Linked DNA regions of Homo sapiens: region 2 is linked to region 1. Evidence: fine-mapped expression QTL. A gene starts in region 1. The other region holds a variant in brackets. All regions are shown on one strand. Distances are between the middles of the regions.

Evidence for each region.
Region 2: its variant is fine-mapped to the expression of CES1 in whole blood (TOPMed, PIP above 0.99).

Annotation. Positions count from the first base shown.
Region 1 is chr16:55,830,905-55,835,904 of GRCh38, reverse strand. CES1 (carboxylesterase 1) reads left to right here and starts at 2,809. Exons shown (of 14, transcript NM_001025195.2): 1 at 2,809-2,901. The coding sequence starts at 2,850.
Region 2 is chr16:55,808,561-55,813,560 of GRCh38, reverse strand. It overlaps CES1 (carboxylesterase 1), which reads left to right. Exons shown (of 14, transcript NM_001025195.2): 9 at 518-658; 10 at 2,551-2,634; 11 at 2,897-3,044. Among named protein-coding and RNA genes, the nearest start is that of CES1, 22 kb to the left of the region's middle. The variant C/T (reference allele first, on the strand shown) is at 2,584.

The DNA.
Region 1 (5,000 bases):
TCATGGCCTTGGGCAAGAATCCATCAGCAGCTCTGGGACTGTCATGTGATTTATGGCTGCTGGTTGCCCAATCTTTCCTGATGTCAATAGTGGTGTGGCCTGGACAAGGGCAGGCTTGCCAAGTGACATTGGGAAAATAGAACATAGCTCCCCAGGTACCTGGTACATGGCTCCCATCTTTGTCCCTTCCTTCCTTCCTTCCTTCCTTCCTTCCTTCCTTCCTTCCTCTCTCTTTCTTTCTTTGTCTCTCTCTGTCTTTCTTCTTCTTCTTCCTCTTCTTCTTTCTTCCCTCCTTCTCCTTCTTCTCCTTCCTCTTTTTCTTCTTCTTCCTTTCTCCTTATTCTTGTAGAGATAGGGTCTTACTATGTTTCCCAGGTTGGTCTTGAACTCCTCTCTCAAGCAATCTTCCCACCTTGGCTTGCCAAAGTGCTAGGATTACCGAGCGGGAAGGGTTGCCACAGTGCCCAGCCTCCCCTGGCTATTTCTATCCCTTCAGCCCTACCATGCTAAGCCTGGGTCAATGAGCTGACAAGGCAATTTGCCTTAGATAAGGCTACTGATTAGAATATCTTCCTGATGTATAAAAGCAAGAGAAATGGCTGCCAGCCACCCTGTGCTGGAAGGCAGAAGCCTCAAGTTCTGGTTCTGACTTTGCCATTGAGTTGCTGTGTGACCTTAGGCAATCCCTCCTCATCTCTGGGCCTTAGTTTCTTTTGGGAATAAATAACGGAATTGAGTTGAGCCTATGTATTAGTCTACTTAGGCTGCCAGAAGAAAATATCACAGACTGGGTGGCTTAAACAACAGAAATCAATTTAAGATCGTGAGACAGCATTAATCTCACGGGGTTATTTTGAGAACTGAGATCCTGCATACAAAACTCTCGGCATAGTGTTTGCCACACAGTAAGCTCTCAGTAAATATTTGTCAATGAATGTATGAAGGAATAAAAGTGGAAAATGCAAATAAGTGAAACACTGACAAGATTACAGCCAGGAAATGGCTGTTGTAATTCTAATTAGATATATAGACTTCCAGTATTTTCCTATGCAAATAAAGACATATGTTACTACCAAAACGGGACCATATTATACCTATCTAGATTTTCAAAAATATTTCATTATTTTATTGAAATATAAGTCACATGTCATAAAGTTTACCTTTTTAAAGTGTACAATCTAGTGGTGTTTAGTATATTCCCAAAGTTGCACTAACATCATCACTATTTAATCCCAGGACATTTTTACCACCCCCAAGATAAAACTCATGCCCATTAGCAGTCACTCCTCATCCCCGTCTCTTTCCCCTTCCCCAGACCCTGTCAAACACTTTCTGTCTCCATGGATTTGACTATTTTGGAAATTACATATAAAAAGCATCATACGACATGTGGCCTTTTGTGGCTGGCTTCTTTCCTTTACCATGATGTTTTCCAGCTTCATCCACGTTGTAGCATGTTCTTCTTATGGCTGGATGATATGCCTCTGCACGCATACACCACACTTCATTTACACATTCATCAGGTCATGGACATGCGGGTTGTGCCCACTTTTTGACTAGGATGAATGACACTGCTCTTTGTGTACAAGCTTTTGTGTGGACATGCTTTCAGTTCTCTTCGGTAGACACCTAGGAGGGGAATTGCTGGGTCATATGGAAACTCTGTGTTGAACTTTTTGAGGAACTGCCTACACCGCACAACAGTTTATAACCTATTATTTTCTCCTTTCACAACGCATCCTGTCTTCATTGTTAATAAATAGCTGTGCACATCACTATTTTGAGTGAATACATCGTATTTCCTTAGCCAGCGGTACCACAGTGTGTTTAGTGAATTCCCTATTGTTGGACATTTAATAATCCCATGAAAGAGGCTTTGAGTGACTTCCTTGTGTCCCCAGCAGCTTGTAAATGACAGTTTTCCAGGTGTGCCCAGAGCACTCTGTATCCCCTTAATTTGGTGATTTCACATTGCCTTGACATCACCCCTACTGCTCCTCCACCCCATCTGTCTTGTCTACAATGGTGAGCCCCTTGAGAAGCTGAACCATGTCTTGAATTGGTCTTTGTATCCATTATACATGGCCAGGTGCCAAGCATTTTGGTAAATGTTCACAAAATGGATGGGTACTTGGATGGATGGATGATAACAGCCAGGGACTATGGGGGGACGGAGTTCATTTTTACATTCTGTCCAAAAATCCCTGCTTTGGAAAGTAGTGAGTTCTCTGACACCGATGGTGTGTGACAGGAGGCTGGACCAGTTGGCAGGATATTGTGAAGCTAATTCAGGCCTCAGAAAGGGGACTCGATGAAATTTAAGATCGCTTCCAAGCTTGAGAGCCTGGAAAGCTATGAAAACACAAGCCCTGGGAGCTGAGATATGTCCTAACTTACCCAGCTGAGCTGTGAGGTGTGAGTGGCTCTAACATTTTCCAGTTGTTTCTGAGGACCTCAGATCAAAGCTTCCCTTTGCCTAAAAGCATCTGCCTGCTGGTGTGGGCCCTTGGGGGCCGTCACAGTGCACTGAGGTTAGAGTCCTGCAAGGGTGAACCCTTATGTAACAAGTAGTTGGGCAAGTTTACAGCTCTCTGTAATCTGACAGTAGAGTCCAGACTGGTTTGATGAAAGAGGGTAAACTGTGGGTGGGCGTGGCCTGAGGCCCCACTAGAAGCCCAGGGAGATCTGAGGAAAGGGAGGGCTTTTCTGATCTCTCCCAATTAGAGGATTAGGCAATTGGCAGCGCAGGGCGGTAACTCTGGGCGGGGCTGGGCTCCAGGGCTGGACAGCACAGTCCCTCTGAACTGCACAGAGACCTCGCAGGCCCCGAGAACTGTCGCCCTTCCACGATGTGGCTCCGTGCCTTTATCCTGGCCACTCTCTCTGCTTCCGCGGCTTGGGGTGAGTCCTTCTGAAATCAAAATGCGGGGCACTTTTTGAAATCCTTGTTCTGGGCCGAGGTGGGCGCAGATGCGTAGAAAGGCAAAGACACAACAGGTCCGGCTCTGCGGCGGGGCACGACTTCCATATTAGGACTTGGACTTGGAGCAGCTGAGCCCGGCCAGCCTGGCCCGCGCGGAGACGCAGGGAGGGTGAACATCCTGAGATCGCCCTGTACTGCTCGCCCAAATGCAGGCCGACAGCCGGCCCACCTCAGGCCGCACACACGAGAAATTTAGGCAGCTCAGTTTGCTGTCCCTTAATTAGTCCCCTTACGGCTGGATCACGGAGAGCGGCTCAACATAATATTAAGAGCATCGACTCTGGAGCCAGAGTGCGTGGGTTCGAGTCCCCGCTGGGCGCTTCCTCGCTGTGTGTCCTTAGGCAAGGGACTGCGCTATTCCGTGCTTGGGTTACCCCCTCTCTGAAACAGAGGTGGCAGTGCTGCCTACCTCACTGGGCTTTGGTGAGGAGGAAATGGGTGGCTGTTTCTAAAGCACTCTTGGCAGCGCCTGGTATGTAGAAAGCACGAAAAAGGGATGGATAAATAAAGGCGCTGTTTAAAAACGTAGTGTATGAATAGAAAATTTGAGCTGTGGTCAGGCCACTATATCAGGACCTCTTGCCATTAAAAAGACAGTTTCTTACTCATGTTCTCAACAGGAGGGGGACACCAGTGCGCGGGGCACAAGGGGAAGCAGCAGAGCCTGGGGAGGGGACAGGGCGGATCTGAGGCCAAGGGGCTTTTACTGTGGCTTCCAAGGATAGAAGAGGAAAGGCAGGGCAGGCAGGCTGAGGACTGGCAAGTTGGGATACTTCAGGGGCTCTGGGGCACAGGGGCTGTTCCTAATTGTTTTGTACCTAGCCCTGGCATGATTAGGGCAGGTGGGTAGTGGCCAGGGCATGGCAACCCGATCAAAGAGGCAGTTGGGGTGTGGGCTCTGGGGTGGCTGGACCCTGGGAGGGAGTTTCTCCAAGGTCAACAAGGCCTCAGATGCCAGAGCATCAGAATACAGAAAGCAAAACACATGGTACATAGAGGGGTGCAGCGAGGGGCCTCGAAATACCCCCATGCCATTTTATAGACAGAGAAACTGAGACTCACACAGGGAAATGTACTTGCCCAGGGTCAACCCGAAAATCACGCCTAGGTCTGTCTCTGGGTCCTGAATCCTGACAGCCCAGCCCCGTCTGCATCCTGTCTTCCTTCTGGCAGCCTGACACTGCGAGAGCTCTGGAACTGTGGGGAAGGGCAGAGAAGAGAGGAAGCCTATTTGGAACTGAATGTTCCTTTACCTCTGGTTACTCCTGGCAATGCCATCCATTTCCTTCCTTAGGAAGACCATACAGGCTGCCTCCACTTCCTCAGTTTCCTCCTCTGTAAAATGGGCATGTTGATGCCTACCCAGCAAGGCTTATTTGAAGATTAATTTAAAAAACTGGAATGCATGCCTGGCACATAGTAGGTGCCCACCATGTTCGTGCTTCATATAACATCAGCAGCAACTGGTCTTGTTCTCACACTTGTTTCTGCCTCCCCCCATTCACCCACTTTTTCACCCTTGGCAATCTGGCTGCCATCCACCTCATCCTGTTGAAGGGAATCCCTGAGCTGAGCATGACCAGCCCAGTGGTTTCTTCTCTGACTTGACTCTCCTCCACCTCCCTGAAGTCCTCAGCACTCTTAGCTGGTTCCTCGCCCTCTTGCTCCCTGGGCTTCAAAGACATGGGAACGTTCTCTCTCCCCTATTCTGATGGATCTTTGGTCTTGGCCGTAGTGGTCCCTGTGTTTGACCTTTGTTTTTTTTTCTCTTCCCTCTCACACTGGCATCTTCAATGAAGCCATACACATCCACCGTATGTACCCTCACAGTCCAGGAGAAGATTCTGCCCTGCTCCCTCACCAGGCTTCCTTCCAGCTTTGAAGTGCGCTCATCCTGTGGCATCATCTTGCCTGGATATCCCACTCACATCTCCACCGAGCCTGTGTAAACAGGGATCCAGCATTACAAGCCAGCTCTTTGGTCTTCTTTCCCTTCCATTTCCCCCACCTCTGGTCA
Region 2 (5,000 bases), 22 kb after region 1:
ACCTATTGTGTGGGATGGAGCCGTGGAAGTCTCTTTCAACAGAAACCCACACATAAAAGAAGGTTGATGAAAATGTTGTGGCCAGAGGTTTGCAAAAACCTAACCCAGTATTTCCCCCTTGAGTGATGACCCTGTATTCTCTAATTCAGTACTCACGGGGGCTTTATCAGAAGCAACTGCCAGGACTACCGAAAATCAATTGTGGACACACAGAGGAAAATGCATGCACTTCAAATTGAAATATATAGACATGTAATTTTACATAGATAATACATGTATTTCAATATGAGTGAAGATTTCTTCCTCTCCTCATCACCTGAGCAGTGTCAGCCTCTGCCTGAAGTTCTGCCCCTGAGTCATGGAGACCTACCCCCCTAAGTTAGGATCCTGAGCATGTGCAGCCATGGCGCATGGCCATGCCGGTCTATGGTACTGGTCTCACCCTCAGACAGGCAGAGTTGGGGACATGGGTGTGACTAGGGAGGGAATCACAGGTGCTGCACTGCTCTCTCCCCAGAGTCAACCCCTTCTGGGCACTGTGATTGATGGGATGCTGCTGCTGAAAACACCTGAAGAGCTTCAAGCTGAAAGGAATTTCCACACTGTCCCCTACATGGTCGGAATTAACAAGCAGGAGTTTGGCTGGTTGATTCCAATGGTGAGAAGGCACATGTCTGTTGGAGGGACTCAACCACCCCCATCAGCCCTCCTGTCTCTGGTCCCAGGAATGCTTCCCTCTCCGAGCTGCACTCTGAGTCCTGGGCAGCTGTTCCCTTCAGCAGGAGTTAACATTTCCACGGAAATCTTCTCCAGGAGGGCACAGTTTTCACCGGGGTATCAGGGCCCTGGGATTCCCTCTCCCCAGACTCTCTTATTGTCTTCCTATTGAAGAATCCTGAAGTGTCTGTGCTGGGAGGGCCAGTAGAGAAAATAACTCTGCAGATGGGAAAACGGAGGGGGCCTAGAAGGGGGAAGGAGTGGAGGAGTCCGGAGAAGCAGTCGGGGGCTTCCTGGCTTCCCACCTCGGGCTGGGTGTGCGTAATTCCCCTGAAAATCACTCATGCTCTTCATCACCTCATTGAAAATATCCAAAGAAAGTGGCTTCTTCTTGAGTTACCATTGACTTCTAGGGAACAGCAGACATCAGCGTCTACTAAGAGAGTGGATGGTCAGAGGAAGATGAGGATGGAAAAGCTACCTAATCGGGTGCTATGCTCAATACCTGGTAACAAAATAATCTATACAGCAAACTCCAGAGACCCAAATTACCCATGATCAAACCTGCACAGTTACCCCCAAACCTAAAATAAAAGTTGGAAACAAATAAATGGAAAAAGTAATTGAGTTCTAAAAGTAAAGAAGTGTTCTCCTTCCAGTTGAAGATAAACAAAACTGACCCTGGTTAAAGCAGTAGGACAGATTTATTCAGTAATATGATTGCAATAGGGGAAATAGTCCAGCGTGGAGTGGACTCACATCCCTGAAACAAAAGCCTGATGACGTTTCATAGGCCAGGTGTGCCAAGGGAAACACTGTGGTCTATGGGGAGAGGCTTGGTTCATGTGACTAGACCACCTGGATGTCTTCATCCTGGCTCACCTGGGGCAGAAACAAACTCCTCTTATCTTTAGGACAGGAAGCCATGCATTAGACCGCAGGAAGAACCCACTGAAGTCAGGCTCTACTCTTTCGACAGGGACTGGGAAGATCAGGAGTGAGCTCCCTGAATGTTTGCATTGCAAAGAGAAGGCTCTCAGGTCCTCAAGGAAATGGGGTTGGGTGGTAGATTCACATCCCAAAGGGCAGAGAAAGTGTTTATCATTGCAGGCTTCTAAAGTAACTGCTCTAGTTGGGTTCGGGGACCTGGCTGCTTGTCTCCAGGTTTTGGCTGGAGCAGAGTAAATTGTCCTGGCAGGGTTGAGCCTTCCCAGGCAGTTATGTTAAGGATACTGGGGTCATTCTAGGGACACAGCCTTAAGCTGCTAGAAGCAATGCTAGAGATTGGTCGAGTCCCTGAGTGCAGAGGTTTGGGAAGAGTTGTTATGTGCGTAGAGATGTGCAGTTCGCCCCTCAGAAGGATTTCAGAGGTTATACCAAAGACCAAAGCCACGAAGACAGGATTTAAGGATTTCAGTGTCATCTGTGACAGGTGGGGGTACTAGGGAGGTCTACATCCTCTTCCCCAGAGCCCTCTATTCCACACTGGCCTGGCAGACACCTTGCATCTCCATGTCACTGACCACTGTAGGGATCCCAGCCACAGACACACACACACACACGCGCGCACACACACACACTGCAAAACACTGCCACAGCTTCTCTGAAATTTTGTTTTTTGTTTTTTTTTTTTGTAAACTTTGCAATGCTTGAGTTTCTGGATATAAGCCCATTTGATTCATTGATTTCACCCATTTCAGTAAAGACTCATGCCCTTAAAAGCCCCCATAATTAGAGGACTTTCAGACTGCATTGGTTTGGTTGGTTGGTCAGTTTGTTTCTTATCATTAATTCCCAATGATTCATAAATGCTGAACTTTTTTTTTTTTTTAGCAGTTGATGAGCTATCCACTCTCCGAAGGGCAA[C/T]TGGACCAGAAGACAGCCATGTCACTCCTGTGGAAGTCCTATCCCCTTGTTGTAAGAGTCTAGGAATCATGGGAATTGGCTGAGACCCAGAGAGGGACAAGGACTTGCCCAAATCATAGAGCAATTAAATGGCAGAATGAAGACTGGGGCCTCAGGGTTTCCCCCATCTTTCCACCTTTCCCACTTCATTTTCCACCCTAGCGGGGAGTTGCACAGGGCTTATGGGGTTCACCATTGAGGCAGGACTTTCTGGTGGGCTGGAGAAGCTGCATCGCTCACCCGGGGCTGGTGGTCACTTTTTGATCTATTTCAGTGCATTGCTAAGGAACTGATTCCAGAAGCCACTGAGAAATACTTAGGAGGAACAGACGACACTGTCAAAAAGAAAGACCTGTTCCTGGACTTGATAGCAGATGTGATGTTTGGTGTCCCATCTGTGATTGTGGCCCGGAACCACAGAGGTGAGTCCCAGAGGTCGAACGGGAGGGACACAAACCCCACGAGCTTCTGTATCTGACCCACCTACCTCCCAGCATAGACAGACATGGAAACAGCTGAGGGTCAGGCCTCAAAGGCTGATTCCATATGGCATGGGATGAGGTGCTGTCTTATTTTGGTTTATGCCAGCAGAAGACTGTGAGAAAAAAAAATCCAGAGGCAAGTGGTTTTTTTAAGGTGATGATCCCAGATAACAGCAGTAGGGAGGTGGGGAAGTGAGAGAGGAAAGAGATGGAATCCAATCCAAGATGCGTTGTCAAGGGAGTATCCACTGTGGACAACTGGAGCGGGGAAACTCAAGGAAACACCAAGAATACAGGGCTCAGGGGCATCCCATCTGAGTGGCAAGGGAGCCGGGTATTTATTCACCAGCTTCTACTTGTCATTGGTTGAAGGCTCTTGCAAGGAATTGTTTATTCCCTGTGACTTCGACCTGCTGCACACAAGGGCAGAGTAGTCTCTTGTGACCAGACAAAGGCCTCAGGCCTGGAGCTGCAGATGCTGGAGGTGGAAGTCAGGCTGGCATGCCCAGGAAGAGGGGATATAGGTGAGACCCTGGCAGCATCTGCTGCAAGGGCTCCATGCCTGGAGTTATTGTGGGACATAGGGCTGCTGTAGGACAAATATTGAAAGATGAGTCGTGGAAGGGTTTTAAGGTCTGAGCCAGCTGCAAACAAGTTTGTTAAGTATTGGAGCTGGATAAAAAGTGGGAGCCCTGCATGGGATCCAGAGGATTGTCCAGGACCAAGAAGGCCAGAGAGAGGAGCCAGGGCGGGTGTGGGAGAGGTGGTCTGTAGAATGGCAGTGTCTGAGGGTGGTTTTTATGCATCTCAGTGCGTGCAGTAGCATGCAAGCACAGGGCAAGGGCAGGGTCTATGCAGGACCTGCTACCACTGACCCAAGGCTGTGTGGGTGGGGCATGACGTTAGGGATGTGTGTGCTCACCTAGAGAGGAGTGTCTGTTCCTGCGTGCCAGCTAGAGGAGATTCACAGGATTCCTTTTCTTCCAGCTCTCATTCGCCTAGTCTGCAAGCTAGGAAATGTCCTCTCTCTAACCATGCTGGAAGGGTTTTTAAATTTAGAACTTCATAAGCATGATAAAAACTAGCTAACGCTTAACTAGCAGGTGCCCTGACACACCTTTGCACAGGAAGGGGCAGGTGCTCATAACCCTCATTTCTTCACAGGGTCCTGATAAAAACCTTTAACCAAGACCACTGGAGTTGAATCTGTTCTTTCTTAAACTTGCCCTTGCCCTATGCTCTGCGTCTGAACTATATATAGAGTTCCCATCTCCATTTTCTGATGGTTTGAGCAATACTGAACTTATGTTTTTCATCTGGTTTCCCATGACTTTAAGTTCAGGGCTTTTTTTTTTTTTTTTTTGCCAGGACTACACAGATTTTATCTACTTTCACTTATTGTTGTCTCACTCTTTTTGATAAAATAACATTTCTGAATATAAAATTAATATGTTAAATTATAGAAACTTTCAAAAATATGGAAACACAAAAAGAAGAAACTATGTATCACTCATTTCCACTACCTGGAGGCAAGTGCTATAAATTTTTTGTGTTTTCGTCTAAAGATTTTCCATGTCCTATATACTTTAAAAATCAATTTTATATTTTACTTTTGTTCATAGAACACTATGTTGTGAGGATTTTCTCAATGTTGATACAAACTCATCAAAGCATTCCTTATTCCATGAAATGGCTGTGTTAAATAGACTTTAATATTCATATCCTATTAGATGTTTAGCCTGGCTACTCACATTCTGATGCTACAATAACATTGAGCTCAGCCTAATGTTCATAAGTCTCTAAACACATGTCTAATAATTTTCTTAGGATTATTTTTAGAAGTAAATAACTAGGTTGGACAATGCAAATGTTTTAGAACTTTGGGCAAATATTGTA